Linked DNA regions of Homo sapiens: regions 2, 3 and 4 are each linked to region 1. The links come from fine-mapping of genetic effects on gene expression. A gene starts in region 1. Each other region holds a variant in brackets. All regions are shown on one strand. Distances are from middle to middle. Region 1 holds the start of AKR1C8 (aldo-keto reductase family 1 member C8). Region 2 has its middle 39 kb from the start of AKR1C3. Region 3 has its middle 19 kb from the start of LINC02561. Region 4 has its middle 40 kb from the start of LINC02561.

Region 1 (8,216 bases):
GAATCCCAGGGATAACACCTACTTAACTGGGGGAAGCCACCATTGTTTCTGTGTTTCTTCCTTTATCAGAATGTTGTTGTGTGTCTCATAACTGTACATTGAATGAAATTGGCTTAAATTTTCACATTAAAAGGAAGATTTGCAGAATGGATTTTAAAAAATCTAGAACCCAACTCTATGTTCTGAACTAGAAACTCACTTTAGGTGAGGACATAAATAATATGAACATGAAAGACAGAAATAGGTATTGTATGAAAGTAGTAACCAAAAAAGAGCTGTGATAGCTATACTAGGACCAGACACAATACAATTTAGTCAAAAACTCTGACAAGAGATAATCAAGACATAGTACACAGGCATACGTTATAGATATTAAATGTTGGGTTCCAGACCACCAACATAAAAAATAGCACAAAAATGAATTACATAATTTTTTTATTTCAACTGCATATAAAAATTATGCATACACTATTCTGTAATACATTAGGTGAGCAATAGTATCTAAGGAAACAATGTACATACCTTAATTTAAAAAAAATTTTGTTACAAAATGCTAACAATCATCTGAACCTTCAGCAGGCTGTAATCTGAACTCCAGTTCAGACCTTTCCCCAATAATTCAGACTGGAATGACAAATTGTCCATTCAGCACCTCCTCTTGAGGGTCTAATGGGCATTTCAAGCTCAGGATGCCACAGAAAAAAATTTATTTAATCTCCATGCAATTTAGCTCCACCTTAAATTTTCACAGTCTCAATGATTCCTTTCTTTCCATCATAAAGAACTAAATTTGGGGAGTGATTCTTGCCTTTTAATATTCTCTCATAACCAATATAAAATCTGTGAACAAGGCCTCTGATGTTCACCTTAAAAATTACCCAGAATCTGACCACTTCTCCTCACCTGCTTTACAACCATCCTGTTCCAAATTACTCAATTTCTTACATTGGTTATTAAGTAGCTTCCTAACTAGTTTTCCACTTTTATCCCTCACCAACCTACATTCTACTCTCTACACAGCAGCTCAGTTTCATTCAGTGTCTTCTTATCTGTCCTAGAGTGAAAGCCAAATGCTTTCAGTGGCCTACAGGGCTCTGCCGAAACATGGCCTTCCCTTCCTTTCTGACCTCTTTCCTAATCCTGCTGTTCCCAGATCACACGTGGCCTTCCCTGGCTACAGGGACTATGCCCTTCAGGATCCCTCTGCTTGAAGCCCTTTTCCCTCAGCTGTCAGCAAGGCTGGCTTCCTCCACTCCTTCAGGTCTTTTCTTAAATGTCTCTGTCTCAGTGAGGATCCCCTGCTTAAGCTATTAAGCTATTTGTAATTTCAATTGTCCCTGCCCTCTTTCCATACTCTACACCTTTCCCTACTTTTTTCCCTTCACAGTGCTTCCTATCATACAACATGGTTTTCATTCTATGTAATTATTAGTTTTTTGTCCGTTTCTGTCTCCTTGAAAGTGAGTTCAATGCAGGCTTCGATTTTTGTCTGTTTTTAATGCCGACAACAGTATCTTGCACGTTATAGCTACTCACTATTTATTTTTGAATGAAATACACTTTCATATAATTCTTGAATGTGTTCCATGGAGGCCATTGCAACATATTTTCTGGCACTCCTTCTACCTCTTCTTCCAGAATTGCACGTTTCCTTCTGTTTCCTTGGGTGCCTTGCTATATTATAATTGCCATTTGCACTCTGTCACCTTGTGTAGGTTTTAAGCTGCTAAGGTTGTAGTGACTTGTGTGCAGCCATGCAGAGTTGATCTAGTACCTCTGCTCAGATCCTCAATGGGCTGCAGTAAAGGCATAAGTCTAAAGCAGGGTCTCCTGAAGGCTTAGAGGGGAATAACCTGCTTCCAAGGTCAGGGGGGAACTGGCAGGGTTTGGTTTCTTCTGGACTGTCTGAATGAAAGCCTCAGTTTTGAGCTGGCTGGTGACCAGAGGCCCCACTCAGCTCCTCTCCATGTGAGCCTCTCCTATGTTGCCACCAATTTTATCAAAGTTTGAAAACTGAGAAAACAGTAGAGTTTCCTAGCACAATGGAAATTACAATTTTGTATTTCCTAATGATGGAAATAATATCACTCTTCTTTACAATAGTCAATTGTTTAGAATAAAGACACAAGTACTAGTCACAGTTGATGAGAGGGCATTATACACATTATACAGGGCCATAAATACCAGGAGGCAGGGATCACAGGGGAACAATTTGCCATCTGCCCACCTCTTATCCAATAAACCATGAGCTCCCTGAGAGCAACTCATATCCTTGGTAGCTTTTGAAAACCTGAGGAAGTAAAAATAGTGCCAGGAAACCATGGACGAACACCTTTCCAGTTAGGGAAGATGGATTCTGAAAAGTGCTTGCTACAAAGCATGACGTCAAATCTGTAAATGTTTTAGGATAATGCTTAAGGCAAGTTTAAGGGAGCATGAAGCCCTGCTTTGGATTTACTAAGAATAAAATTGGCACACTCTCTTTCACTAACAAATTTCCTAGACTGCTAAATTAGGGAAGTGACAGAGAAATGTCTCTTACTTGGGTAAACCATTTAGTGCAAAATACAGGTTAATATTGCAAACATGTTAGACAAATTTTTAATCTAGTGAATGATGAGCTTCAGGCTATTACCATTAATAGACATGCTTTTTTTGTGACTTGACACAGAACTTAACCCCATCTCTGTAGGGTTCTACAGTTTTACCAGTGTAATATAAATAGTATACTTGCCAGATTTATAACTGATACAATGTTGTGATAATTATAAACTACAGGGAATCAGAATCAGGCAGAATTCGGACCTTGAGCAGCCAGAGCTATGGGTTCAAAATAAGATAAATGACAACGTCATGTTTCAGGATTGCCTCTAAGATACCAATGGCACAAATACATGTTGGAGAAAGCACCGCATAATAAAAACACCAAAGAAAATACCACTTAAGCATCTTATCTAGCAGAAGCTCCTTATTAGTGGAGAGTGTAATTTCAATGATGTGATTTTTTTTGACCTGCTTCATAGAAGCTAAGAGAATAAGAGGCACACAGAGAAGGCTGGTCAACCTCACCCAGGGAGGTTATAGAAGAAGTCATCTTCTCTTTTTATAGTATTTCATAATGTGATAATTAAATCTATTACTTAAAATTTGAAAAAAATAAAAAAAAAGATGAAGAGGTGTTTTTAGCAATAACTGGTTACCCTGCTGATTATTTCAAAGTCTGTTATGTTATGTTATTTTATTTTATTTTTTTGAGAAGGAGTCTTGCTCTGTCACCCAGGCTGGAGTGCAGTGGTGCAATCTTGGCTCACTGCAAGCTCCGCCTCCCGGGTTCATGCCATTCTCCTGCCTCAGCCTCTTGAGTAGCTGCGATTACAGGTGCCCACCACCACGCCCGGCTAATTTTTTGTATTTTTAGTGGAGACAGGGTTTCACCGTGTTAGCCAGGATGGTCTCGACCTCCTGACCTCATGATCCGCCCACCTCAGCCTCCCAAAGTGCTGGGATTACAGGCATGAGGCACTGCACCCTGCCCAAAGTCAGTTATTTCGAACCATTTAAGGTATTAACCTTGGTCCAGACCTGTTGTCCTCACCTACAGAGGATGAAAGTGTCCAAAGTGAATTATGCAGAAGGCCATTTAGGCTGAGCCTCTTGGCATCTGAATTGGAAGCCATTTTTAATTTTCATTTTTCTCATGGTTGCTGTGTGTGTGTTTATGTTTGCAAAAGCAATTTAGGCCCTGGAATTCCAAGCTGTTCTGTTAAGACCCAGGCTGCTTTGCTATCTCCTATCTTTGTTCAAAACAAACAAACAAAAAACAACAATAAAAAGAAGGAGTCATAAAGGATGTTAGACTGTAGGAGGTGCTTTTAGGATAAGTAAAAGATAAGAAACCCGCTGGAGACCAGGAGGGAGTTAAGCAGGCTGTTCTAAAAAGAGACAATGGCTGGAACAAAGGCAAGAGCATAGAAATGTATCCATGATCTCAGACAAGTTTTTTCTGCAAAACATTCAAGGAAACAAGTCAGAGAAAATGGAGTGTGGCTTGACACAGGAGGGAAATATACTGGGAATAGGGGTGGGTGTTCTTAAGAAATTTCATTACATGCATGGCTGGCACTAGGCCTCAAGCGTTATTCAAGGAATTCTAATAAGCTGTTTTAAAGGGATTAACAATCAAATATAAGTGAGAAAGTTAACTTCAGTTCTGTAGTAGAATTAGTGTTTTGAAATGACCACCCTAATAATAACTTTGCCTCTTGTAAAGGAAGTCTAGTGTACTTATCAAGGACAAATTGGTGTGGTTCATTTTTCAACTAAGGAATCAAGTGTGAACAACACGGAGGAGAAAATCAAAGTCCTCTGGCATTCACAGCATTTCTGAGTGAGTTTTCTGTAAAATACTCCCACAGAGACATAAGAATCAGAGAAAAGGCACTGGACTGATTCCAGTTTCATTTTGAAATCATTGGCAGCTGTCATCTCCATCCCGCCCATCCTGCATTTGGTGCAAATAAAGAACGCAGGAGCCTTGTCTCCTACTGGGCTGTCAGTGAGGAAAAGGAGGAAAGACAGGTTAGCTGGGGATGATGACGGATCTGAAGCAAAGCCATTCAGTGAGGCTGAATGATGGACCCTTCATGCCAGTGCTGGGATTTGGCACTTATGCTCCTGATCATGTAAGTGGACCCCAGGAGGCTGAAGTTTCTTAGGTCAGCTGTACTTGCAGGGCAGTCATCAGGCAAGAGCCCTGCACTTGGGTAGACAGTGGATGCTTGGAAGGGCTCATCTGGGATTTCATTTAACTGTCTCTAACTTGCTCCTCTCAAGGTCACAGAGATCTTTTTTGCTTTAAGTGGCATGGCAAGTTATTGATTGTGGGGATTCTGAGATTGATAATTTTGTGGGTATATTATCTTTATTTCTATTAAAAGTATCAATGTTACCTAATATATCAAATGCTTTCCATGTATTTTAGGTGTTTTACATGCATTATCTTATTTAATTCCTTAACAACTGGCCTAGGTAAGTACTCATTAAAATTTGTTACGTTTTAAAAATGCAAGCTCAGACTGTTCTCATCTTTTGCTCTGGTCAGAGCCACTCTACTCTTGGTTAGAAATGTGAAGGGCCAAGGACCCAGGAGGAATCAAAAGCCAAAATGAATACTTAGTGGCAGCTTTGCTGTGAGGTTATTGGGGCTGGAAGTATTTGCCAGAGAGTTTCAACCATCCAAACTTTTTGCTATATAAGAAGCCACTGCGATTCTGTTACAGTCTCATCAATGTATTAAAAATATAGTAGTCTTTCATTTTGAGGGATTATCTGAAGTTTTTTGTCTTATGACTGAGAAAATTAAGGACTGTGGACACAAAGGGTAAGGTTGGAGTGAAAGTTTAATAAGTGAAAGAAGGAAGATTTTCTCGAGTAGAGAGGGGGCCTGGATGGATTGTTAACTATGAGGTCAGGTCTAGGGTTTTGATGGACTGGGAAAGAAAAGAATTTGTTGACTGGTCTTGGAGAAAGTGTAACTCAGCTTGTCCTGGGACCTTGGTCTGGGACCAATCAGGAGTTGAAGTGATAGCTTGGCCTGGGACCTTGGCCCAGGAGCAGTCAGATGCTGAATGATAATTCATAAAGGCTCATCTCACGGTCCACATGTCCACAAAAGGAAAGGAAAGTGCCCACCAGAGCCCACTGGAGCCCACCATATACATGCCCACAAAAGAAAAAGAGACTTTCCTAGAAGTCTGTTGGTTACACAAAAGACAAATGTGTTTCTCTGTTGGTTCTTGTTCTCATATGAGTGCAGTTGTTGCCATGTCTTAGGCATAAAGGACAAAGGCATTTTGATGTTGGGCCTTGTTTTTTTATCTGAGTGAGCTGGAGGTTTGTGTAAGTTTCCTTATCTGTGTGTGTAGTCTGATTTTTTTCAAGCTGTTTCTCTGTTTAAAGGAGTTTTACCAAGAACTCACTCTAACTGTTTAAGTTTTTTCTCTCATTTTTACCCTCAGGAGTGGAGTCCCTAATTGTCAGGGAGATTGGGTGTTGACTTTTCTGGCTATTTTTTTGTCGGATGGTGGTGTCATGTGGGGAACAGTAGTTAGAGTTCTTCCTGGGGTTGGTTTAATGATCTTTGGAAGAAAGATATGTTTATGTGTGGTGTTATTAGTATTACCATTTAGAGTTTGATAGTTTTTATGTGAGAAGAAATAATTTGGGCTATTAGAGTACATGTATTAAAATGAAATAAGGGGGGATAAGGATAGTTTAAAAATTCTGAGGTTGTTGATACGTCCTGATAATTGGTAGTTATAGTTATGTCTGTTACGATTTCGGTGTATGGAGCTTGGTTTTGCTTAGTTTTTTTGGTCTTCTTTTCTCAAATAAAGCAACCTCTGGATTATGGGTATTCTATATATTCCTATGACCTGGTAGGATTTGTAGGATAATTGTTCAGAACTAGAATATTGTTCTAAATTTTATATTATTTATCTTTTACTGTTTTTATTTTTTGTTGTAGTCAGAGATTGTTGGTTAGTTCATAAGAATAAGTAGGGTTAGTCTAAAATGTAGGTAAACATTTAAAAATAATTAGTGAGACTAGAATTTAATAACAAATGTATGGCAAGTTTGACACACTATTTTTCTCTCTAGTTCTTATTTTTGTCAAAAACAAGTCATGATAGGATAGTACTGAGTTGTTTGTAAAATAAATTTTAGTTTCATATTTGGTCTGATTATCTGTATAAAGAATAGTAAGAATAATTTTTTTTTTTTTTGAGACAGAGTCTGCTCTCCTGCCCAGGCTGGAGTGCAATGGCATGATCTCGGCTCACTACAACCTCCGCCTCCTGGGTTCAAGCAGTTCTCCTACCTCAGCCTCTTGAGTAGCTGGGACTACAGGTGCATGCTGCCACACCCAGCTTATTTTTTGTATTTTCGTAGAGACAGGGTTTCACTATGTTGCCCAGGCTGGTCTCGAACTCCTGAGCTCAGGCAATCTGCCTGCCTCGGCCTCCCAAAGTGCTAGGATTACAGGCATAAGCCACCACACCTGGCCTTACAATAATTATTTTATATAGGGTTTTTAAATTGGTTTTGATGGAATTCTATTCCATAAGTAACCTCAGATAATAATACCTCAGTTTAAAGTTGAGTCTAGTCATGGGTTTGTACTCTCAAATATTTATGAGTTGGGTCAATTTTTCTCTTTTTGAGGTCCCAAGAATATAGGGTTCTTGAGCCTGTTAGAAAGTGACATTCTTTATTTATTATAGGTTAGGAACCCTGTTTGGGAACTGCATAGACAAGGTATGAGGCCAGTTTTTCTAAGAGGTTTTTATTGGTTTCGGAAGTTAAGTTTGATTATTCAAAGGGAAATATATCCTTCCAGTCAAAGTCTTGGTAAAATAATCATTTTTAAAAATTGTGTCTTGTAAAAGAAAATGGATTTTTATTGTACTGATGTAAGCAATTATATTGTTATAAGTCTTGAATATTTATAATTAGTTTCTGAATTTCAGAGGAACCAGGTAGAGATAAATAAATATGTTTTAAATTTTGTTCACAGAAGTGTATGTTATTCAATCGTTAAAAGTTGTAGTTCTTTCAAAAGTTTTTTGACTCTGAAAAAAACAAAATGATGATCAGTAATTTTTTAGTGAAAAGTTAAAAAGGATTACTTCAGTTTTCTATTAGTCTATTTTGTTAACTCTTGTTCTGTTTGATATTTATAAACATTTTAGTTTTTTGTGAGTCTTGCATGTTTTTTTATTAGAAACTTGTATTTGAGAGTGTTTGTTAAAGTCTTATAGTTGATTATAAATCATCTTTTGAAGTGGATTAAAACAAGGTAACAATTGCCTGTGAATGACAAAATGTCCAGGGTAGTTGTAGCTAAGAATATGATTGACAAAGTAATTTGGTTATTTCTGTGGTTTACAATAGTTTAACACAATAACCTTAATTATGATTGACAGTATATATTTAGACATTAGAATCTTAGACATCTTATATGGTTTTGGAACATACATTAATATTATTTACTGAAATATAACTTGAGGAAGATTAAATATCATTTTGGCAGTCTCACATATTTAAATATGTCAAGTGATCCTGTTCACTTTTTTGGGGTTGTTTTAGGGGCCTTCTGTAGTATTTAAACATTAGGGGTCAGGGAAGACAATCTTGAAACTCAAGTTTAATTTTGG
Region 2 (8,216 bases), 52 kb after region 1:
TACTGTCTCTCTTTATTTCTCAGCTGGCTGACACTCATGGAAAATAGAAAGAACATACACTGAAGTATTGGGGGCAAGTTGCCCCAATATTGTGCCAGTTTTCAAAGGGAATGCTTCCAGTTTTTGCCCATTCAGTATGATATTGGCTGTGGGTTTGTCATAAATAGCTCTTATTACCTAGTTTATTGAGAGTTTTTAGCATGAAGCAGGGTTGAATTTTGTCGAAGGCCTTTTCTCCATCTATTGAGATAATCATGTGATTTTTGTTGTTGGTCCTGTTTATGTGATAGATTACGTTTATTGATTTGTGTATGTTGAACCAGTCTTGCATCCCAGGGATGAAGCTAACTTGATCTTGGTGGATAAGCTTTTTGATGTGCTGCTGGATTCGGTTTGCCAGTATTTTATTGAGGATTTTTGCCTTGATGCTCATCAGGGATATTGGTCTAAAATTCTCTTTTTTGTTGTGTCTCTGCCAGGCTTTGGTATCAGGATGATGCTGGCCTCTGTCTTCTGCATCAATCACGCTGGGAGCTGCAGATGGGAGCTGTTCATATTCAGCCATCTTGGAATGGACTCCCAGTGAGGGAATAGTTTCTAGCAGCCAAAAGATTACATCCTGCTGAAGGTTCAGAAAATTGTTAGCATTTTGTAACAAAAAATGTTTAAATTAAGATATGTATATTGTTTCCTTAGACAGATACTATTGCTTACCTAATATAAAATAGTGTAAACATAATTTTTACATACAGTTGAAATTTAAAAATTTATGTGATTCATTTTATTGTGGTATTTGCTTTATGTTGGTGGTCTGGAATGTGACTTTTAATAGCTATAAAATATGCCTGTGTTTTATATCTTGTTTATCTCTTGTCAGAATTTTTGACTAAATGTTATTTCGTCTGATTCTAGTACAGCTATCACACCTTTTCTTTGGTTACTATTTTCTTAAAATACTTATTGTTGTCCTTCATGTTCACACTATTTATGTCCTCCTCTAAAGGAAGTTTCTGATTCAGAACATATAGTTGCATCCTGGATTTTTTAAAACCCATTCTGCAAATTGTCCTTTTGATGTGGAAATTTAAGCCATTTACATTTAATGTACACTTATGAAACACATAGCAAAGCACATTAAGATATCATTTTACACAAGTGAGAATGACTATTCTTAAAATGTCAAAAAACAACAGATATTGGTGTGGATTCATCAGGGATGTTAATCATGGATCATGCAAACTGGAATACAGTGGTATGACCTTGGCTCACTGTAGCCTCTGCCTCCCAGGTTGAACTTATCTCCTGCCTCAGCCTCTTGAGTAGCTGGAATTATAGGCATTTGCCACCACACGTGGCTAATTTTTGTATTTTTGGTAGAGACGAGGTTTCGTCATATTCGCCAGGCTGGTCTTGAACACTGGATCTCAAGTGATCCACCTACCTCAGCCTCCCAAAGTGCTGGGATTACGGGTGTGAGCCAACGTGTCTGGCCCAATCATTACATTCAAATTTGCCCTCCAAAGAGAGACACAAGTAAAAATTAAGGCATGTGAGGATTATTCACCAATTTATTGTAATTAGATTCCAGTTTTATGAATAACATTTAACAGGATCACAAATTATGTAAAATAGTTACCAGTTTTTTGGAACATTACCTTTGATAGTTTCTTATAAAACTATGTGAAAGATACAAATACTATAAGGCACTGTTTCCATATTACAAATGATGTCCAAAGACCAGACATTGTTAATTAATACTCCAATAAACATCATGTCATAATTTCTGCATTTTCTTTTTCCTTTGAACCCTTGTCAGGATTACAACATCATCAGGACTGCATTTTCATCAGGAATGAATATTCCTTCTACAATGCAAAGAAAAAAAACCCAAAATATTTGCTGATGGAAAGGTAAAAGGAGAAATTTTCTTTGGTTTTAATGTTTAACTTTTTTATTGTCACCTGTTAAAAAATGCTTACTAGTCATTCCTTTAGCATCATGTGAGAGAAAGATGTACAATGATTGATCATTTATATGACATAAAATAAAGATGAAACATCATCACGGCATGAACAAAAACGAGACTTGTTGCTGGAGTTGTTTTATAGTCCAACATATGATAATTAATCATTCTATAAATCTATTGGAGGAATTTATGAGATAGACAGATGATAGATGATAGATAGATAGATGATAGATGATAGATAGATAGATAATAGATAGCCAGATAGATAGATAGATAGATAGATTCCAGATGGAAAATTTTACTTTAGTAAGAAAATAATAATTTTATTCTGACTATATTAAAATGTACTTAAGAATTCTCTTTGATAAAAAACAAGTGCACTGGATTCAATTTTCTTCATAGCCTGTGTAATACACCATCACTTGCCTCTTCCTACATGACATTGGTCAGCCCCAGACAGTGGGCAGTGTAGCATTGCCTGCCCATTGTTTATACAACCTGTGAATATAAATGCTGGATGTTGAAGAAGGAAACCGTGTCTGCTTAGCGAAAGGAATGACATTCAATGGATCCCAAATATCAGTGTGTGGAGCTAAATGATGGTCATTTCATGCCTGTATTAGGATTTGGCACCTGTGTACCTCCAGAGGTAACATAATCATATTTTCAGTGTTGGGCATTTAAAAGAGCAAAGCTAGAATAAGTAGATGACTTGGGTTTTAGCTTTGTGTTCCTGTGTTACTCTGCGTGACTCACCTGGTCTGTTTTAATAGGCCAGAGCTATTCCATGTTCAAAGAGAAAAGGTAGTCAATCTTTGTTCTGCATTGGGGTCTGGTCATATGGTCGTGTACTGCTTACTTTTATTTTGTGCACTGTTTTTTTCTTCTGTTTATGGGTGTTCCCAGCTTTGCAGAATATTTAAAACTCAAGAGTGAAGAACGCTGCCTGGCATTTCCTTTTGTAGGTGATTGACTGCAGTGGAATGGTTTCTCCGTTTCTTTCTATAATTGAAGAAATTGTTTGTTCTTCCAAGTATACATGATCGAACAAAATCTTTGTGGTAACAGTGTCTGGAGACGGGGTGTATGAAAACTCTTAGGGAGAGTATTGCTGAGCTGCTGTGTGGCCTTGAGCATGACAGAGTAATAATACTGGTCTTGGACTTAATACAAGTTCCCATGTACAACTTTCACCTCTAGGAAAATTAAAAGGAAAAATAACTTTAAGAAAAAACTAGAACCTCGAAGGAGAAATTTTAGATTTTTGGTCCATGTTAATATGCATCAGATTTGTATCAAAATGGTATGGATGGTCCCCTGACATGAAAGTAGGCAAAATGGAGACTTTATTTTCTAGACTGAACTATTTCTATACTGGAAGAAAACGTGTATTCCAAGGCTACTAAGTGCTTGAATAAGGACTAGTCAT[A/G]TAAAATTTGTCTCACTTTTCTCAACTGTACATTGTAAGAATTTACAGAGAGACATCTTGAAGACCATCAACACTAGCGGTTTACTTTGTAATGAAAATTGGCATGAGGGGGAAGTAAGGAAAAGCACAACATGGAAGCTTTAGCCTTGGTAAACCTTGAGTGCCTCCACAGCAAAGAGAAGATCAGGGCTGGTATCAGGGGAAGGCAGTGAGACCTGGCATCTAGTTCCTTTTAATATCATTGAAAATAGAAAGCTTCTGAAATACTCATATTAAAATAGAAAATTGTTCTATTCATGGCTTTGTTGTTTAAAAAATGTACCTTTCAAATCTTCATCCAAATTTGGTAGATAAATCAATAATTTTAAATTTCACTGAAATTATATCTTTCCTAAAAAAGTTGTCCTTATTTTTTAAGACTAAAATATACTTTACTAATCTTTTACAGGTTGCAGTTAATTTCTTATGTATAAATCTACATCCTTGGAGTGTATGTCTTTACTCGTCATATTTACTTCTGTCATGCACACAGAATGGCTAATGGCTGTGTAGAAAGGAGTGAACACAACAGACTGCCACCCGTAGATGTACCTGTTTTCAAAGTTGGAGGCCAGAATTTCTCACCATTTCCTAACTAATAAGGGTGCTGTCTATAATTAACTGCTTGTACAAAGTGTGGGGTTTCTACATATCTGCTTTGTTTACAAGACTTGGAGTTTTGTGTGTGGTACACAGACTGGGTCAATGTAATCAGTACCCAGGTAAATCTTGGGAATGAAGTGTCCAAATAGCATCCCTTGTAGACAACATTTCCCCTATATTCTCAAAATGTGATGCTGGAGGAAGTCAGTGTGTTTTGTGCAACATCACTGAGAGAGGAATCATAGGAACTTGCACTGTATTCTTCCTGTAGTTCCTTCCATGTGCCTTCTTCCATGTGTTAATTTCACTATATTAAAAATAATTAGGAGGCTTCCTGCAGTGGCTCACGCCTGTAATCGCAGCATTTTGGGCGGCAGAGGCAGGTGGATCCCTTGAGTTTGGGAGCTTGAGCCTGGGCAACATAGCGAAACCCCGTACCTACCAAAAATACAAAAATTTAACTGGCATAATAGCGCGCATCTGTGGTCCTAGCTATTTGGGGAGACGGAGGTGAGAGGATTGTTTCAGTCCGAGATGAAGTGGGGGAGGGGCAGAGTTTTCAGTGAGCTGAGATTGTGCCACTGTACTCTAGCCTGGGTGACAGAGTGAGACTCTGTCTCAAATAATAATAGTAATAATAAAGACTATATTTATAACTGTAATTTGAGTCTTGTTAATTTGTCCAACAAATGACTGAATCTGAGGTTGTTCTTGGGAAACTCATTGCTAGTGATCAACCAGGAATTACCTGGGATTGAAGAGGTCCAGGGATACCCAACATTTATTACTAAGCAGGAAAGACTAAAGCAAATTGGGATGGATTTATCACCCCATATATAGAACTAACCCAAGATGCAAGAATAATGTGATTTTTGTGAGGGTCATTGTTTGTGCCTGAACTACCTGTTGAGCACATTGATCACCAAATACTACTTTTCATTACTCCTCCGGGTTCCTAGGAATAGAGTTGTGGAGGTTACAAAATTAGCAATAGAAGCTGGTTTCTTCCATATTGATTCTGCTCATTTATACAATAATGAGGAGCAGGTTGGACTGGCCATCTGAAGCAAGATTGCAGATGACAGTGTGAAGAGAGAAGACATATTCTACACTTCAAAGGTACTGTGCCTATGATAAGCATGCATGCACATGTATTTAATGTGATAGTGTGGAGATGACAATTCTGTAACTGGATCTGTAGGTGGGTGAATTGTGCTTATTGGTTCCAATTTATTGACACATATTCATGTATTAAAACTAAAATAAAAGGCGGCAAATGATGATGTCTTTCTCATCATTGTTGTGTTCAAATTTGTTACTTGAAAATCACTTTACTTTTTTGAGCCACAGCTCAGATCAGTAAAATATTTTTTATGCGCTCATTTTTTAATTTCAATGGCTTTTGTGGTACAAGTGGATTTTGGTTACATGAATGAATTCTATAGTGATGATTCTGAGATTTAAGCGAGCCCATCAGGCCATCAGTGGACACTGTACTCAATATGTAGGCTTTTATCCCTCACCTTACTCCCAACCTCCCCCAACACTGAGTCCTGAAAGGCCATTATATCATCTGTATGTCTTTACATCCTCATAGCTTAGTTCCCACTTATAAGTGAGAAGGTACTGTGTTTGGTTTTCCATTCCTGAATTACTTAGAATAATGGCCTTAATCTCCATCCAAGTTGCTACAAAAGACATTATTTCAATCCTTTTTACATATACACCATTCTATGATGTACATATAACACATTTTCATTATTCATGCATTGGTCAACGGACTCTTAGGTTGGTTTTATATTTTTGCAATTGTGAATTGCACTGCTATACACGTGTGTGCATGTGTCTTTTTCATGCAAGCTTTTCTTTTTGATAGATGCCAGTAGTGGGACTGATGGATCAAATGGCAGATCTACTTCTGAGTTCTTTGAGGAATCTCCATACTGTTTTCCATAGGAGTTTTACTCATTTACATTCCCACCAGCAATGTAAAAGTGTTCTCTTTTCACTACATTCATGCCAACTTCTACTGTTTTTGTTTTTTTTTTTACTTTTAAATTATAACCATTCTTGCAGGAGTAAGGTGGTGTCTCACTGTGGTTTTAATTTGCACTTCCCTGATTATTAGTAATGTTGAACCTTTTTTCATATGTTTGTTGGCTGTTTGTATATCTACTTTTGAGAAATGTCTATTCGTGTCATTTGCCCACTTTTGGATGGGATTATTTGTTTTTATCTTGCTGACTTGTTTGAGTTCCTTGGAGATTCTGGACAATAGTCCTTTGATGGAAGCGTAGTTTGCAAAAATTTTCTCTCATTCTGTAGGTTGTCTCTTTACTCTCATGATTATTTCTTTTGCTGTGCAGAATTATTTTAGTTTAATTAGGTCCCATTTATTTATTTTTGTTTTTTGTGCATTTGCTTTTGGGGGTCTTAGAGATAAATTCTTTGTCGAGGCCAATGTAAGGAAGAGTTTTTCCAATGTTATCTTCTAGAATTTTTATGGTTTCAGGTCTTAGACTTAAGTTTTTGATCCATCTTGAGTTGATTTGTGTATAAGGAGAGATGGTATCCAGTTTCATTCTTCTACATGTGGCTTACCAGTTATCCCAGCACCATTTATTGAATAGAGTCTTTTCCCCAATTTATGTTTTTGTTTGCTTTATCAAAGATCAGTATTTGACTTCATTTCTGGGTTCTCTATTTTGTTTCATTTATCTAAATGCCTATTTTTATATTAATACTATGCTCCTTTCCTAACTACAGCCTTCTAGTATAATTCAAAGTCTGGTAATGTACTGCCTCCAGATTTCTTCTTTTTGCTTAGTATTGCTTTGGTTATTGTGGCTCTTTTGTGGTTCCATATGAATTTAGAATATGGCCATTTTCAGAGTATTGATTCTATCTGTAAGCATGGGATGTTTTTCCATTTGTTTGTCTTATGTATCATTTCTTTTAGCAGTGTTTTATAGTTTTCCTTGTAGAGATGTTTCATCTCTTTGATTAAATATGTTCCTAGGGATTTTATTTTATTTTATTTACAGCTGTTGTAAAGGGCTTGATTTCTTAATTTGACTCTCAGCATGGTTGTTGCTGGTTTATGGCAGAAATCAATTTCTGTACATTGATTTTGTAACCTGATACTTTACTGAATTTGTTTATCAAATCTAGGAGACTTTTGGATGAGTCTTTAGGGTTTTGTAGGTATATGATTATATTATTGGCAAACAGCAATACTTTAACTTCCTCTATTCAAATTTCAATGCCCTTTCTTACTTTTTCTTTCTTGATTTCTCTGGCTAGGACCTCCAGGATTAAGTTTAATATTAACAGAAGTGGTAAAATTGAGCATCCTTGTCTTGAACCAGTTCTCAGGGGAATGTTTTAAACTTTTCTCCATTCAGTATAATGTTGGCTTTGGGTTTGTCATATATGGCTTTTATTATTTTCAGGGAAGTCCCTTTTATGTCTAGTTTGTTGAGGGTTTTAATCATAAAGCAATGGCGGATTTTACCAATTGCTTTTTTTGCATCTATTGAGATAACCATATGGTTTTTCTTTTTTAATTCTCTTTGTGTTATATATCATATTTATTGACTTGCCTATGTTATACCATCCCTGCACCCTTGGGATGGAACCCACTTGATCATGATGTATTATCTTTTTGATATGCTGATGCATTTGGTTAGCTAGTATTTTCTTGAGGATTTTTTTAATCTATGTTCACCAGGGATATTGGCCTATAGTTTTCTATTTTTGTTATGTCCTTTCCTCGTTTTGGTATTAGGGTGATACTGGCTTCACAGAATAATTTAGGCAGAGTTCCGTCTCTCTCTATCTTTTTGAATATTTTCAGTAGGATTCGTACCAACTTCTTTTTGAATGTCAAGTAGAATTCTGCTGTGAATCCATCTGATCCTTGGCTTTTTTTGTTGGCAATTTTTTATTACTGATTCATTCTTGGTGCTTGTTATTGGTCTGTTCTGGTTTTCTATTTCTTCCTGATCTAATCTAAGAAGGTTGTATGTTTCTAGGAATTTATCCATTTACTCTAGATTTTACAGTTTGTGCACATAAAGGTGTTCTTAGTTGTCTTGAATGATTTTTTGTATTTCTGTGATATCATTTGTAATGTGTCCAGTTTCATTTCTAATTGAGCTTACTTGGATCTTCTCTCCT
Region 3 (8,216 bases), 100 kb before region 1:
GCCACCATGCTGGCCTCCTGTGCTGCTGTGTTCTCTGACTAGAGCATTTGTCACTCAGCTGGGCATAGCTGTACTCTGCTGAGGAAGGCCCTGCTGTTAGTCCCAGCCCTGAGGGGAGGGATGACGAATGCTTTGCTGCTCTGTTTGAGTGCAACATGGGCCTCTCAATTTCCCACTGCAAAAAACAGTGTTGGACGCAATCTTTCATAAGGATTTAGAGATAGTTTGCAGATCACAGAAAATAAGAACAGAGCACAGAAAAACTTAAAAAAAAAAAAAACCCCACTGTGCCTATGCTTAGAACTCAATTTCATTCATTCCGCAAATATTTATTGAGCACTGACCACATACTAGGGAGCTTTTCTAGGTGTGGTGATTAGTGTTGGAGAAATCAGTCAATAAATATGAAAACATACCACAAAATAAGTGAATAATTCAGGCAATTGCTCTGGTCACAATTGTTCTGAAGGAACTAAAACTGAGGAGTAAGATGGAGAGACACAGTGGGGACTGGGGAGCTACTTTGATTAGAATGACACAGGGACAAAGACATCACCAAGAAGGTGAGACTGAAGCCAGAAACCAATGATGAGACAGAGGGGGTGATCGAGGCTCTGGAAAACCTCTGCACAGGTAGGTACGAGTCTCTATGTGATGCCCACATTTTCCTAGAGAAGAACTTGACAAGGACATGTCCATCTTGTTGCAGGGGCAGGGAGTGAGTCTCAGGAGATCTCAATTGAGTCTGTACCTTTGCTTGGGATGCAGGACCTGGGAGAGGTAGCCCAGAGCAGCATGAAGGCCTTGGCTGGGGTGGGGCAGGCCTGGGAGTGAGGGGCAGTGAGCAGCCCCAGAACACTATGACCCTGCTGCTATGGCCTCCCTTTGCCCTGTGCAATGAATGGAATCTTTACATCCCCACCAAAGTCGTATATGAAGCCTTAACCCCCAAGGTGATGCTATTTGGTGGTGGGTCCTGTGGAGGTGATTAGGTCGTGAGGGTGGAACCCTCATGAATGGGATTAGAGCCCCTCTTAGTCCATTTATTGTTGCTATAAAGGAGGACTTGAAGCTGGGTAATTTATAGAGAAAAGAAGTTTATTCAGCTCACAGTTCTGCTGGCTGGAAGTTTCAGGACTGGGCTTCTGGTGAGGGCCTCAGGCTGCTTCCAAGTGTGGAAGAAGGTGAAGGGGAGCTGGTGTGTGCGGAGATCGTGTGGTGAGACAGGAAGCAGGAAGGAGGGGAGGGGCCAGGTTCTTTTTAACAACTAGCTCTCATGGGAACTAATAGAGTAAGACCTTACCCCCCTCCCCTGGGAGGGCATTCATCTCTTCATGAGGCGTCTACCCCATGGCCCCCAAGCCTCCCATTAGACTCCATCTCCAACAATGGGGATCAAACTTGAACATGGGATTTGGAAGGGACAAATGTCCAAACTATACCAGTGCTTCTGATAAAATAGCCCCCAGAGAGATTGCGTGCCTGTTTCGCCACATGAGGACAGTGAGAGGACAGCTGTCTGTGACACGGGATGCAGGCCCCCGCCAGACCCTGAATCTGCCAGCACCTTGATCTTGGACTTTTAGCTTTCAGATCTGTGAGCTATCTATGTCTTTTGTTTATAACCCTCCCAGTGTACAGTACTTTGTCACAGCAGTCTTAACGAACCAGACTCCCGGTCAGAAGGTGTGGTCTTAACCAGACTTTTCAGAAGGCATTTTGAGAACTCTGAAAGCTGATCTTTTTGGCTCCCTACTTATGTGGGGGTGGTAAAAGAGGGGTAAGGTGTGTTTCCCCAGAGAGTCGGGCAGCATTTCTCTTTGTTGCTTGACAATGGATTCCCATTTATTCAGAGAGGATTATATGGGTGTGTCTTAGTCTGTTTCCTGTTGTGTAACAGAATAGCCGAGACTGAGTGACTCATAAAAAACAGAAAGTTGTTTGGCTCAGTCTTGGAGTCTTGAAAGTCCCAGATCACAGGCCCCACATCTGGTGAGGACATTTGTGCTGTGTCATCCCATGGCAGAAGGCAGGGGGCACGAGCGCAGGGGTAAGAGGATGAGAGACAAGAGAGGGCTGAAATGACTTTTGCAATAAACCCACTCTCACGATAATGGACCCGTTTTCGCAATAATAAGGTCAGTGCTTCATGACAGCAGGGCCGTTATGACCTAGTGACCTCTTAGAGGGCACGTCTTTACACTGTTGCACTGGGGATTATACTTTCAACACATGGACTTTGGGGGACACATTCAAACCACAGCAAGGTATTTGGCATTTTATCGCCATGCAATGTTAACATTTCTCTCATAACCCTGGGTTAGCCTTTCCTCGTGAATTGCAGCATCCTTGCTGAACTCTTGTTCTGTATGGTTAAATCTCCTATCAGAGTTTTGGGGCTGTATCCAACTCTTTGTAGTTTTGCTGTAAATAATGACTTTTCTTTCTGTCCAGCAAAATGTTTTAAAACAAGATGATACTTGATATGGAATGGCTCAAACATCCTTTATTCCTCTGATAAATAACTCACTTGGTGTGAATAATTCAGGCAATTGCTCTGATCACAATTGTTCTGAAGAAACTAAAACTGAGGAGTGAGATGGAGAGACACAGTAGGGACTGGGGAGCTACTTCAATGAGAGTGACACAGGGACAAAGACATCACCAAGAAGGTGGGAAGAAATTCTTTATCCCCTCATCATCCTATCTGGTGGTCCCCACTAGAGAAAACCCGCCAGGATTTCTTTCAGTGCAGCTAAAAAGGTGATGCTGGTGGCTGAGACTAGCTCTGAGAGGAGAACAAGCTTGCTCAGTTCTTTAAGGCCTCAGTTTTTAGCTGGCGGGTGGACTGAACGTTAGACAAATTTTTAACCTGTTGAATTGTGGACTCCAGGCAGTTCACATCAATGAAGACAGAATTTTCTTGTGACTTGATACGGAACATCTCTATTTAGTGCAAAAGCTTTAGCAATGGAATATAAAGGATATTCTCATCAAATTTATAGCAAACACAATGTTGAGATAAATGTAACCACATGGACTCATAGAATCAGACAGAGTTCTGACCTTGACCAGCCAGAGGGATGAGTTGAAAGTAAGATAAATTATAATTGTATGTTTCATAATTGGCTGTAAAATACGGATGGCACAAATACAGGTTGCAAGAAGCACAGTATAATAGAAACATTAAAGAAAACATGAGTTAGGTGTTTTATGTAGCAGAAGTTCCTTATTAGTTGAGAATGTAATTTGAATGATGTGGTTTTTTGGCCTGGACGGTAGAAGCTAAAGAGTATGCAGGGAAGGGCATCAGCTTCATCTAGGGAGATCATAGAAGGAGTCATAAAGGATGTGTGACTGGAGGAGGTGCATTTTAGATAAGTAAGAAGTCATTAAACTGCTGAAAACTAGGTGGGATAGAGAAAGCTGTTCCAGAAAGAGGCAATGGCTGAAAGAAAGGCAAGAATACAGACATTTATCCATGATTTCAGACAATTTTTTCTCACCAAA[A/C]GGATTCAAGAAAACAAGATCGAGACCATCCTGGCTAACACGGTGAAACCCCGTCTCTACTAAAAAAATGCAAAAAATTTAGCCGGGCGTGGTGGCGGGCGCCTGTAGTCCCAGCTACTCGGGAGGCTGAGGCAGGAGAATGGCGTGAACCTGGGAGGTGGAGCTTGCACTGAGCCGAGATCGCGCCACTGCACTCCGGCCTGGGCAAAAGAGCGAGACTCCGTCTCAAAAAAAGAAAAAAAAAAAAAAAAAGAAAACAAGACAATGAGAATCAAAAAACGAAACGGTCCTTGGTACAGGAGACAAAGATAATGAAAGTAGGAGTAGGTCTTCCTAAGAAATGTTGTTACGTGTGTGCTTGGGACCAGGTGTCAGGCTTTGTTCAATAAATTTTCAGTGAGGTATTGTTATGGGATTTATGATGAAAGGAATGGTGAGGAAGCTAACTTAGGTACTCTGGGAAAATTAGTGTTTAGATTCACTAGCCTAATGATAGTTTTATACCTTGTAAAATAAGTCTGGTGCCATTATCAAAGACATATTTGCATGCTTTTTTTGAACTTTTATTTTAAGTTCAGGGGTACGTGTTCAGGATGTCCAGGTTTGTTACACAGGTAAACCTGTGTCATGCGGGTTTGTTGTACTGATTGTTTCATCACCCAGGTATTAAGCCCAGTACCCATTAGTTATTTTTCTTGATCCTCTCCCTCCTCCCACCCTCCACCCACTGATAGGCCCCAGTGTGTGTTGTTGCCCCGTATGTGTTCTCATCATTTAGCTCCCACTTATAAGTGAGAACATACAGTATTTGGTTTTCTGTTCCTGTGTTAGTTTGCTAAGGATAACAGCCACTATCTCCATCCATATTCCTGCAAAGCATGTGATCTAATTCTTTTTTATGGCTGCATAGTATTCCATGGTGTACATGCACCACATCCTCTTTATCCAGTCCATCACTGATGGGCATTTGGGTTGATTTCATGTCCTTGCTATTGTGAATAGTGCTGCAATGAACATACACAAGCATGCATCTTTATAATATAAGAATTTATATTCCTTTGGGTATATGCCCACTAATGGGATTGCTAGGTTGAATGGCACTTCTGACTTTAGGTCTTTTGGGGAATCACCAGACTGTCTTTCACAATGGCTGATCTAATCTATACTCCCACCAACCGTGTATAAGCGTTCATTCCTCTCCACAACCTTGCCAGCATCTGTCATTTTTTTGACTTTTTAATAATAGCCATTCTAACTGGTGTGAGATGGTGTCTCCTTGTGGTTTTGATTTGCATTTCTCTAATGATCTGTGATGTTGAGCATTTTTCATATTTGTTGGCTGCATGTTTGCCTCCTCTTGAGAAGTGTCTGTTCATGTCCTTTGCCCACTTTTTATTGGGGTTGTTTGTTTCATTCGTGTAAATTTGTTTAAGTTCCTTATAGATGCTGGATATTAGACCTTTGTCAGATGCATGGTTTGTAAAAATCTCTCATTTTGTAGGTTGTCTGTTTACTCTGTTGATAGTTTCTTTTGGCATTTTAAATTTTTTAACTTAGAAATCAAGTGTGTACAACACTGAAGAGAAAATTCAAACTCCTCTAGCATGCAAATCTTTCTGTACGATTTTCCTGTAAGACAGGCCTGCAGAGACATGGAAGAATCAGAACAAAGTCAATGGATTGATTTCAACTTCATGTTGAAATTATAGGCAGCTGTAATCTCTGCCCTGCCCATCTTGTATTGATGGAAATAAAGAACGTGGCAGCCTTGTCTCCTACTGGGCTCTCAGTCAGGAAATGGAAGGAAAGGCAGAGTCAGATTAGCTGAGCTGTGGGTGGTGATGGATCTGAAGCAAAGCCATTCCGTGAGGCTGAATGATGGACATGTCATGCCGATGCTGGGATTTGGCACTTATGCTCCTGATCATGTAAGTGGACCCCAGGAGGCTGAAGGGTCTTATATTTTTTTGCACTAAGAGGATGATAAGCTGTTGACTCTGAGAGTTTGGAGGTTAATTTTTTGGATAATTCTTTTTATTATTATTATTGTGACCTAACATATATCAAATGGTTTCATGTATTGTATTTTCCATGCATTATCTTATTTAATTCTTCAACAACCGTCCTTGGTAAGTACTCACTACTTCTTACATTAAAAAAAAAAAAAAAAAAACCCATGCTCAGGCTGCTCTCATCTTCCACCTGCTCAGAGCCGCTCCACTCCTGGTTAGAAATGTGAAGGGCCAAGGGCCTAGGGGGAAGTGGAAACCAACATGAATACTTGCTGGCAGCTTTGCTGTGAGGTTGTTGGGGCTGGAAGTATTTGCCAGGGAGTTTCGACCATCCAAACCTTTTGTCACGTAAGAAGCCACTGTGATTCAGAACATTAGGTAATTCGATGGGAAGACTTAGGGGGCACAACATCACAGTAAGGACTGAAATACAGCCATCCACTCAGTTCATGGCAGAGAACTTGAAGTGTCACACTCTGGTCACGGTAACGTAAGGGCAGCTTTGGGGTTGCTTTGGAGGGATTGCCCCCAAAATGAGAGACCAATGGATGGGCTCAATCTTGGTAGAACTCTGTCATGAGATATCACGAGATAACAGCTGCCAGAAAGGGTCAGTAGGTTTTCAATGACATAATTATCCATTTCATCCATTAGGCATAATGTGTGTCTTACATATGTTATATGTAATGTTTATTACTCTTAGAAAAGACAGAAAAAAGTGCCATAGAGAATAGAACAAAATTCCCCATAACCCCCTCATTTACCATAATAAATTGTAATACGTGCACGTGCTTAATATTCAGACATTTCAAATGCACTAAGTGAAAAAGAAGCTTCCTTAATACTCTAATTGGTGTTTTTACCTTAAGTCACTGCAGGAACGAGAAGCTTTTTTCCTGCGTGTGTGTTGTGCTGTCTTTTGTCCTGCTGTTCTAGGAAGCTTGCTAGGGCAGAATCTCAGATGTAGTCATTAGACTATCCACTGTTTGAAATTTGAGGCAGAGCGTGTACATATTATCATCCTAACGTTGCAACGCCAGCTTGGTGAGGTGACGTCTGTGTCCTGGGTAAAACCAGGCCAACTATTGACTGCAACCCTTACTAATAACATAAACAGTTGATTAACACCTATTTTGCATGTTATATGTATGGTATACTGTATTCTTATAATACAGCAAGCTAGAGAAAAGTAAGCTAGAGAAAAGAAACTCAAGAAAATCATAAGGAAGAGACAATATATTTGCTACTCATTAAGTGGAAGTAGATCATTACAAAGGTCTTCATCCTTGTCTTCTTCACACTGTGTAGGCTGAGGAGAAGGAGGAAGATGAAGGGTTGGGGTTGCTGTCTCTGGGGTGGCAGAGGCAGAAGAGGTGAAGGAGGGGGAAGGGAGGCAGGAGAAGTAGGCACACTTTGTAATTTTGATTGAAAAAAATTCATGTATAAGTGGGACTGTGCAGTTTAAACCTGTGTTATTCAAGGGTCAGCTGTAATATGTATGTAGTGTGTGTGTGTGTGTGTGTGTGTGTGTGTCGATTGACCTGTCCTTCCTATTGAGTGCCTTAGAAAAATTCTCCCAGTATCAGAAGTTTTCCCGTTGGTTATTCTTGTACAATTGATTCATATGGAATGAGATGTGATTTTTCCATGCTCCAGGGTGAAGCCAATTCCACTAATTTATTTGGGAGTAGAAGCTTACAGGAGGTTAGTTGCTGTCCTCGGAGTGTGCAAGTCTATCATGGAAACCCAAATGATCAAAAGGGGAGCAGGAGGCCAGCAGACTATGAAGATGCTATTGGATAGCAGAGACATGGGCTCAACCTAAATGCCCGTCCGTGGTAGACCAGATAAAGAAAATGTGGTACATAAACACCGTGGAATACTGTGAAGCCACAAAAAAGAACTAGATCACGTCCTTTGCAGCAACATGGATGAAATTTGAGGCCATTATCCTAATCAAACTAACACAGAAACAGAAAACCAAATACTGCACGTTCTCACTTACATGTGGGAGCTGAACAACACACAGGGATACTGGGAGGGGAACGACAGACATCGGGACCTTTTGAGGTTGGAGGATGGTGGAGGGAGGGGATCAGAAAAAATATTTATTGGGTACTATGCTTATTACCCAGGTGACAATCTGTACACCAAACCCCTGTGACACAGTTTACACATATAACAAACCTGCACATGTGTCCCTGAACCCAAAGTAAAAGATTAAAAAAAAAAAGGAAAATGCCATTGTGGAAATACATGGATTTTCTCTGAGTCAGGCAGATCGTTGACTCCTCTTACTCCTGTTTTATAGACCCCCAAGAGCAAGGCTGGTGAAGCCACCGAAGTGGCTATTGATGCAGGCTTCCGTCACATTGATGCGGCGTTCTTCTACCAAAACGAGGAGGAGGTCGGAAAGGCCATTCGAGAGAAGATTGCTGATGGCCCTGTGAAGAGAGAGGACATTTTCTACACCACTGAGGTGAAATTTCTGTGTGTGCAGTGGCCAGAGGCCACCGTCAGTTCAGATGTATTATTTAGAAAAACAATGTGGTCTCAGAACAATGTATTTACCTAATATTGTGAAGGCACATTATCAAAACATAGGAACAATGTATTTCTTACCTAATATTGTGAAGGCACGTTATGAAAACATAGAAAAGGCTTTTCTCTGAGATGTGTGAAAGGTGGGACACT
Region 4 (8,216 bases), 130 kb before region 1:
GATGGGACTGTAAACTAGCTCAACCATTGTGGAAGTCAGTGTGGCGGTTCCTCAGGGATCTAGAAGTAGAAATACCATTTGACCCAGCCATCCCATTACTGGGTATATACCCAAAGGATTATAAATTGTGAGATGACTTCTAACATCTGCTCTTCTTCCTTTACACAACAGCTTTCAGCCTTTATTCTCTATTCTTCCATTGCATTTAGCTCTGCTCGTCAATGTCCATGTTACAGTAAGGGCAGTCCTTTGTCTCTTTCTTTCCACCTTTCTGACCTTACCTTCACCTCCCTCCACCCAACCACACACCCCAGACCCTGTTGTCCAGGCGCTGCAGATGTGTGGCCAGGAACCAACATGCCCGGACTCCGTGTTTTCAGCCTGCTCCTCAGCAAAACAAAGAAACGGAGCCTTTGGCGGCTGTCTTGGTTTACTCTCCCATCTCCCTTTCACGGTGTCCTGCTTTAAGACACAGAAGGCCTATTAGCCATGCTCACCTAGACAGGATTAGCAACAACTTGCTGCCCAGGTAACTACCACCTGGGCAATCTTCAACCTTAGCGATGGCCAGCGTGTATTTGCTTTGTTCAGCTGCTGTGTTTGCTTTTCTAACTGCTAATGGCCCACAGTTAGAGGGTTAATGAGGCAATAGGTGCTCTTCTGGCTAATTAAACTCTCAGCAAATGTGAAGCATTAGGTCAGATGATCTGAGTTCTCATTTGTCTGGAGGGATATGTTAATAGGAAAACTCTTTCCCTTTACTCATTTGAATGTTCTAAGGGCATGGGGAGAAGGTGTAGCTCAAGGGAGAGGGAGTATGCCCCCACATCATTTAAGGGGAAAGGATGTGGCCATCAGTGTGGCTTGATGAATTTTGTTTATAGTTCTAGAGATTCTCAGGATGGCAGGATGGTTCACAGCTGGGCCCCTCACTGGGCAGGAAACAGCCCCACCCAAGGTCACTATTCACCCTTCTGGCGTGGTTCACTGCCAATGACTGCTGGTGCAGACATCTGAAGTGCCAGCCCCTTGCCTCAATTTGAGACAACATAGAAGGATTATCCACAATCTAGAGCTCTCTGCAGGTATAGCCAAGACCTCTGTTGCAGCTGCAGCCAAGACCTCTGTTGCAGCTGCTTCCTGGGTCATCTTCTCTCTGGGCCCAGTCTTGCTTTCTCATGTCCTCACAGGTGTATCTCCTGGGAACACTCCCTCAAGACATTCTGCATGCAGCTGTCTGTGTCAGTCTTTCTAGGGATCCTAGTTTAAGATACACACATATTGCATCATTTCTTCAGCGGGAGCTCCCATCTGCACCTCCTCAATGTAGTGTCTGATGCAGAATGCTCATTTAGCGTTTATTGAATGAACGGATGAAAGAGTGAAGACAAATCTTGGTGGATGGGGTGAGAGAAGTTTCGAATTGTGCTTTGGCCTTAAGTTGAGCTCTGCATTCTAACACTTCACAGGCATCAATCTCAAAGTGCAGCAGAAAAGAACTGATAAAAATCTCATTTTAAAGCAATTACTGAGAGTATGGAAAATGACTTTCACAAGGAAGCGTAATGTTAAGATAACACAACTTTTACAATATTGCCTGGAATGGCTGCTATCTTTTCAGCAAAGTGACTTTAGGTTTGAGTGTTGGGCAGTGGTACCAAGTACCAGGAACCCTCTGACCACCAGTACTGTTGATGTTCCCTTCACTTCTTACTTTCTCTCCCAGGAACTCATTCTAGATCCAGAAGCAAGTGAGAAGACCTGGACCCACAGGGTTATTTAGGGCTGTTGTGGGCTGGGTGATATCCTTAAGTCCCCCACCTCCCACCACAACCCCTGCAGCCCCTGGGCTCTGCTGACATCAGTCCTCCACAACCGTAGCTCAGATCCCATGCCTCTACCCCAAGTGGTCTGTTGGATGCTGGACATTGGTCGAAGTTCTTAGGGGCTTTGATCTTAGGGGCCTTCCTTCCCTCAACCATGAAGCCACCCTAAAGGGGTGGTCTACTGTGTTATTCAAGGACCCGGTCTGAACAAGCTCACAACTTCCCCAAGGACAGGCCCATTGGCTCTGCCGGGGGAGTCCCTGAAGGGCTGCCACGGTACCCCAGTGAAGGGTAATTATTCCTCGGCTTTCACACCCATCGTTAACCATTTCCACAACCAAAAGAATTTTTATTAAATCTTTTTTGTCTTCCTTAAACAACTTCAGGCTCTTTTCAGGCAAAGTCATTGTCTAACTCATACTCACCCATCTCAGAGAGGCAATGATAATAAAGTTAAGGTTTGAGTGCTCTTTCTATCATGAGCCAAGTGTTTTTTTCTTTTTAATGTCTCAAGTGATTAAATCATTTCAACACTCCTAGAAGGTATTACTATCACCGTATTTTGTAGAGGAGAATACTGGTGACCAGGGAGGTTAAGCAGTTTGTCCAATTTATTGCAGACCAAGGAAAGGGAGGCCCAGAAAAGTTAGGGAAATTGTCCACTAACACTGTGAGTAAGTGGCAGGGCTGGTGTTTGAACCAGGCAGCCCGGCTCAATCCCACCCTCTGGGACACCACTCAATGGTATTGCCCTCTGAATAGTGGGACATTCTGCAAAGAACACTGGGTCACCTGGTTGTAACCTCAGATCTGCCACTGACTTTCTGGGGGAGCTTGGGAGAATCACCCAGCTCCTCTGGGCACTTGTCTGGGTGGCCTCTAGGGCTCCTTTCAGTTGGATGGTTCTAGAAAGTCTCCTTGTTATTTCCTCCTATCTCAACTTCTCACTCTTGACAGAGAACACTGGCGGCATGTGGAGTAAAAGAAGTACTTTCTTGGCATAAGAAAAACTTCAATGCCTAGTCCCTTTCAGGGAAGAGGTGGATGACTGGTTTGCAATGGGTGCCAGCTCTTGAAATACGCTTACTGTAGGTATGATTTCCCCTAATCAGCAGAGGTGCTGTTATTCCAGCAAGCGTCAGAATATGGGCTCATAAATATTATACTCTCTTGTGCTATTGTGGGCAATAGGGTACTTGACATCATCTAACAACACTTCAAAGTCAAGAGTCAATTGTTGCTGTTTTAGTGACTCTTCTTGGTGTCTGAATTAGCATCTGCTATGGTTTGAATGTAGCCCCCAGATTTCATGTGTTGGAAACTTAATCCCCAAATTCATATGTTGATGGTATTTAAAGGTGGCACCTTTGGGAGGTAAATAGGATTAGATAAGGTTGAGAGGGTGGGGCTCCCATGATGGGCCTGGTGGCTTTAAAAGAGGAGGAAGAGGGACCTGAGCTGGCACATTTGCTGATGCCCTCCACCATGTTATCACACAGCATGAAGGCCCTCACAAGATGCAGTCCCTCAACCTTGGACTTCCCAGCCTCCAGAACCATAAGAAATACATTTCTTTTCTTTATAAATTACCTGGTCTCAGGTATTCTGTTATAACAACAGAAAATGGACTAAGACAGCATCCTCCCTCCTAAGTCTTTGTGATGTATTTAAAATCTCCTTTAAGGGGCAATAAAACCAAGAGGGCTACAGAGCTTCAACCTGTGGCTTGTCAAATGCAGCCTGGTCACCAGAATGCCATGTGTCTGCAGTGTGGCGGGGGGACAGGCAGAGCTTTCCAGCCTCCAGCCTCTGTCTCAGGCTGGCTTGTGGCCCAAACAGGAAAGGGTGACAGCTTTGGTTGAAAACATTTTTTTTTTCCTGTAAATGATAAATACTTTATGGGAAGGTTAACATGCTAAGATAGTATTCATAAGTAGTTCCTTATGAATCCTTTAAGTATTCATAAGTAGTTCCTTATGAATCCTTTAAGTATTCATAAGTAGTATTCATCAGTAGTATTCATAAGATAGTATTCATAAGTAGTTCCTTATGAATCACACAATCCTTTATAACCGTTAAGAGTAAGTTTTCTTAGAGGGAGCATGAGAATTTCTCATTTTCTCATTTCTCTTCTGGCAAAAAGTGCCTTAAAAAGTTTCTATTCAACAACTTAACCCTCTTTTCCAACATGCTTTTTTTTTTTTTTTTGAGACGGAGTCTCACTCTGTTGCCCAGGTCTAGGCTGGAGTGCAGTGGTGCGATCTTGGCTCACTGCAAGCTCTGCCTCCCAGGTTCACACCATTCTCCTGCCTCAGCCTCCTGAGTAGCTGGGACTACAGGCGCCCATCACCATACCCAGCTACTTTTTTGTATTTTTAGTAGAGACGGGGTTTCACC[G/A]TGTTAGCCAGGATGGTCTTGATCTCCTGACCTCGTGATCTGCCCGCCTCAGCCTCCCAAAGTGCTGGGATTACAGGCTTGAGCCACCATGCCCGGCCTCTAACATGCTCTTTTGAACTCACTCCCATGGTGCTTTTTCTCTCAAGGACACCAGCAAACTTGATTCTTCTCAGGGACACCAGCGACATTCATTTTGTCAAACCAAACAATCCACTCTCCCTTCTTGTGTTACTTGACCTGTCAGCACCACTGACATGCTAGGCACCTGCACAGATTCCCACATGTAGTGGGTTGGGAACAATGAGCTTGGAGGGTTCATGGCTTTAGAGCAAGTGGAGGGAAGCCTGCCCTTTGCCTAGGGAAAGACATTACTTCCTCCCTGAAGGCTGCTTGCTATAAGCACAACCCTGAGACACAGCCCAGGCAAGATGCAGTCAGGACCATGCATTCTGGGCATAGCTGGCAAGAAAATGCAGTGACGTGGAGGGTCAGGTGGAAGGCCTCTTCCAAAAGTGTGTGTCCCAAAGGCAATCATTCTCAAATTCCTGAACCCTGGTTCTCCAGCATCAGTCAAGCTTAGTCTTACTATTAATTAATTATCAGCAAATATCCCCATGTTAACACACACCTAATAATGATTATAAGGATAACTCACATGTATTGAGCATGTACCATGCGGTAAGCCTGACTATGGCCTCATGTAATCTCCACAACCTCTCAGTAAGGAAAATATTGTTTGGCTCATATAGATTAGGTAATTCAACAGAGAATAGTAAGTAGTGGAACTGATATTCAAACCTACATATGCTTGGCTGGGCATGGTTGCTCATGCTTGTAATCCCAGAACTTTGGGATGCCAAGGTGGGAGGATCCCTTGACAATAGGAGTTCGCTATTAGCCTGGGCAACACAGTGAGACCCAGTCTCTACAAAAATAATTAAAAAATTAGACAGGTGTGATGGCACACACCCATAGTCTCAGCTACTCGGGAGGCTGTGGTGGATCACTTGAGCCCAGGAAGTTAAGGGGGCAGTGAGCAAGGACTGTACCACTGCATTGTAGCCTGGGTGACCCAGTGAGATCCTGTCTCTAAAAAAACACACAAACCGAACCAACACACACAGAAAACCTATGTTTGCTTGATTCCAAATCTGTCCTCTTTATGCCTCATCACCCTTCCTGATAGGATTAAATGTGCAGCATTGCATGACGTACACATATAAGAGAGTAAAGAAGGAAGGAAGAGGACCAAGAATCACGTTTTAAGAAATACTTGAAGAAGCCAAGTGGTGAATTTTTAAAAAGAGGGATGGTGAACAACAATGTATGAAAGCTCAGGCAGATGAGGTCTGAGGACAGAGCAGTGCTTGGCTGCTTGTGTAGAAAAAGGGCTTTGGGTGGGAGCATGCTTATCCTCTTCTCTCTGTTGGTCATGAATTACAGTTGGACTTTCAGGTTAGCTGACTGACAGCTTATACATTTTGTAAGATACAAGAACTCAAGACAATGTAAATCCAAGGGTGGAGTGGAGGTAAGGGCCGATGGAACAACTCACAGCACCAGCCAGCTGGAGATGGAGATATGAGAGGCAGCAGGCAGGATGACTGATGGTGGAGCCCATGGGCTTTGGTGTGAGACTTGGCTTCAAACACCTGGACATCATTTTCTAGCTCTTTTGAGAGTTAGGTCTTAGGAAAATCTTTTTATATCAGATTCTGAATTAATTGAATGTAATCAATAGCTATTTAGAAAGGAAGATGAAAAATATGCAGTCTTCATTGTGAAATAGATAAACCCCATGCTTAGGAAAAGCTTTTAATTTGAAATTTTACATAGAGTTTTTGTTTAGTGTTTTTTTTTTTTTTAAACTAGTAAATGGCACACATCATCATTTTCCTCAGCTGAGTAATATACGACCCTGGTGAATAGTAGAGAAGTAATTATTTCATTTACTTTATCTCTATCATTTTTTCCAAGGGAGAGTGGGTCTGTGAAATTTTCAGAAGCTCAATATGTCTGACTTGCAAATTAGCAGAGCTGAAAGGTGGAGAGGCTACCTTACTCTATCATCTTGGAGAGACACTTGATTGCAGAAGAAAATAAAGGCATTTAAACGGCACTTACAGAATGTTTTCTACCCTGGACTTTGTTTCCTCATTCATTCATCCCACAAATGTTTGTCAAACACTTCCTATGCCAACCATTGTTTTGAGGGTTTAATGAAAATTAAAGCTAGAAGAAAACACATGAGTCTTTTTTGTTGATCAAAACTATTCAATAGCTTTATTCTTCCATTCCATCAATATTATATTCATCTGATTACTCTTAAATTCCAATATTCCAATACACAAAGTCTCCTTTCTCTCCAGCCAACTGGTCAACTCTTTGCACCTAACTCACCACCCCATCTTGTTCGTGTTGTCATCATTCTGCCTGCCAGGAACGTTCACTCCTCTTCAGTGTATAATTTTTTTTTTCCCGTCAGATTCTAATTCAAGTCCCACTACTTTCATGAAGCCCTCCTCACCTGCTTTAGCCTGTGAGACTCCTGGAATCCTTCTAACAGCTCTCATCCCTGAATGCCCGGATGACCTTTTCTGATTATAAAAATATTGCAGGATGAGTAAGGAAAATTTGAAAGAGAAGGAAATATATCACCTCAATTCTTCTTTGCAGAGAACATTATACTTGGCATCTTGTGAATTTTTTATATGGACTTAAAAAAGCAGAACTGATGTAATAATGCATATAAAATTTTATATCTTATTTCTCCTGCTTAATGTTATATAATTACTATTTCTCCAAGTTATTAAAAACTTTCAGTTATTATTTGTAACATTTGCCTGATTTTCCACTTGAAATGTGTACCATAATTTACTCAATAATTCCTCTGTCATGAAAAATTTAGTTTGAGTTTAGTTTTTTCCTATCATAAATAACCCTGAGATAAACATAAGGCTTACTCCATATTATAAATTATTTACTTAATTAAAAATCTTAGAATTGGAATTACTATATCAAATGATGTAAACATGTTGATATATATTGCAACATTGTTGTACAAAAGGTTAATATTAATTTTCATTCTTGAGTAGACAGTTATTTCACCATATCCTCATTAGCACTAAGTATTCTTTAATAAAAACAAAACAAAAAACTTTGCTAACTTGTGTCACCTGTTTGTCATTTGGCACATGCAGCAATGATCTTCTTCCCGAAATACATTAGTCACCACACTCCCAAATCAGAGTCAGGTTATAATTTAGATTGTACTATTGATTTGAATACCCACTTAGACCTCTCGAACCTCCCACCTCACTTGTTGAAAAATTACTGTGCCCTCTGCAAAGTAAGCTGCGGTGACAATGAGGATTTCACAGCTCCTTCTCCTCTAGGATGGTCATCTTCTTTTGGGATGCAGCCTCAGGGGTCCCTGTGTTCCTTCTCCCTTTCTTCATACTGGCCCCTTCTTCGTTGGGCAACTTGTAATGTTCCGGGAGCTTTGGTGGCTTTAACCAACAGCTTCTTGCTGTTTCCTCAGTTGGCAGTGTGGAGTTATAGTTTTTTCCCCCAGCATTTGTCAGTGTTGAGCATATTTTTCTCATAACTGCTCCCCCCTTCTGCGATGTGAGATCCTATCAATATCGTTCTAATGGATCTGCCTTTCCTTCATTTCCTGTGTGGACTCTGCCCACGCCAACATGTGGGTTCTCCAGTTGTCTTCCTGGCCTCTCATTCTACAGTCTTCCTGGGCAACTCCACCTGCCTCCAAGGCAGACTTATCTCGGTGTAACAATGAGGATTTTAAAATTATATATTACATTACATAATTATTATATTGCATACTTTTATTACATATTTTTATTTAATTTATTCAGTTATTTAACTTATTTAATTTTATTACATAATTCATTACATAATGACTACGACAATTTTCAAAATTACATTAAATGTATCTTGGTGCAAAATCTGTAACTGAAATCTGCCCCCTGC

The links.
Region 2: its variant is fine-mapped to the expression of AKR1C8 in whole blood (TOPMed, PIP above 0.99).
Region 3: its variant is fine-mapped to the expression of AKR1C8 in whole blood (TOPMed, PIP above 0.99).
Region 4: its variant is fine-mapped to the expression of AKR1C8 in blood mononuclear cells (TOPMed, PIP above 0.99).

What each region holds. Positions count from the first base shown.
Region 1 is chr10:5,181,478-5,189,693 of GRCh38, reverse strand. It overlaps AKR1C8 (aldo-keto reductase family 1 member C8), which reads left to right and starts at 4,544. Exons shown (of 9, transcript NM_001395972.1): 1 at 4,544-4,682. The coding sequence starts at 4,590.
Region 2 is chr10:5,129,542-5,137,757 of GRCh38, reverse strand. It overlaps a transcript of AKR1C8 not described here. Among named protein-coding and RNA genes, the nearest start is that of AKR1C3, 39 kb to the right of the region's middle. The variant A/G (reference allele first, on the strand shown) is at 3,396.
Region 3 is chr10:5,285,630-5,293,845 of GRCh38, reverse strand. It overlaps the pseudogene AKR1C7P. Among named protein-coding and RNA genes, the nearest start is that of LINC02561, 19 kb to the right of the region's middle. RefSeq lists an enhancer at 1,460-2,659. The variant A/C (reference allele first, on the strand shown) is at 3,511.
Region 4 is chr10:5,307,411-5,315,626 of GRCh38, reverse strand. No RefSeq gene overlaps it. Among named protein-coding and RNA genes, the nearest start is that of LINC02561, 40 kb to the right of the region's middle. The variant G/A (reference allele first, on the strand shown) is at 4,224.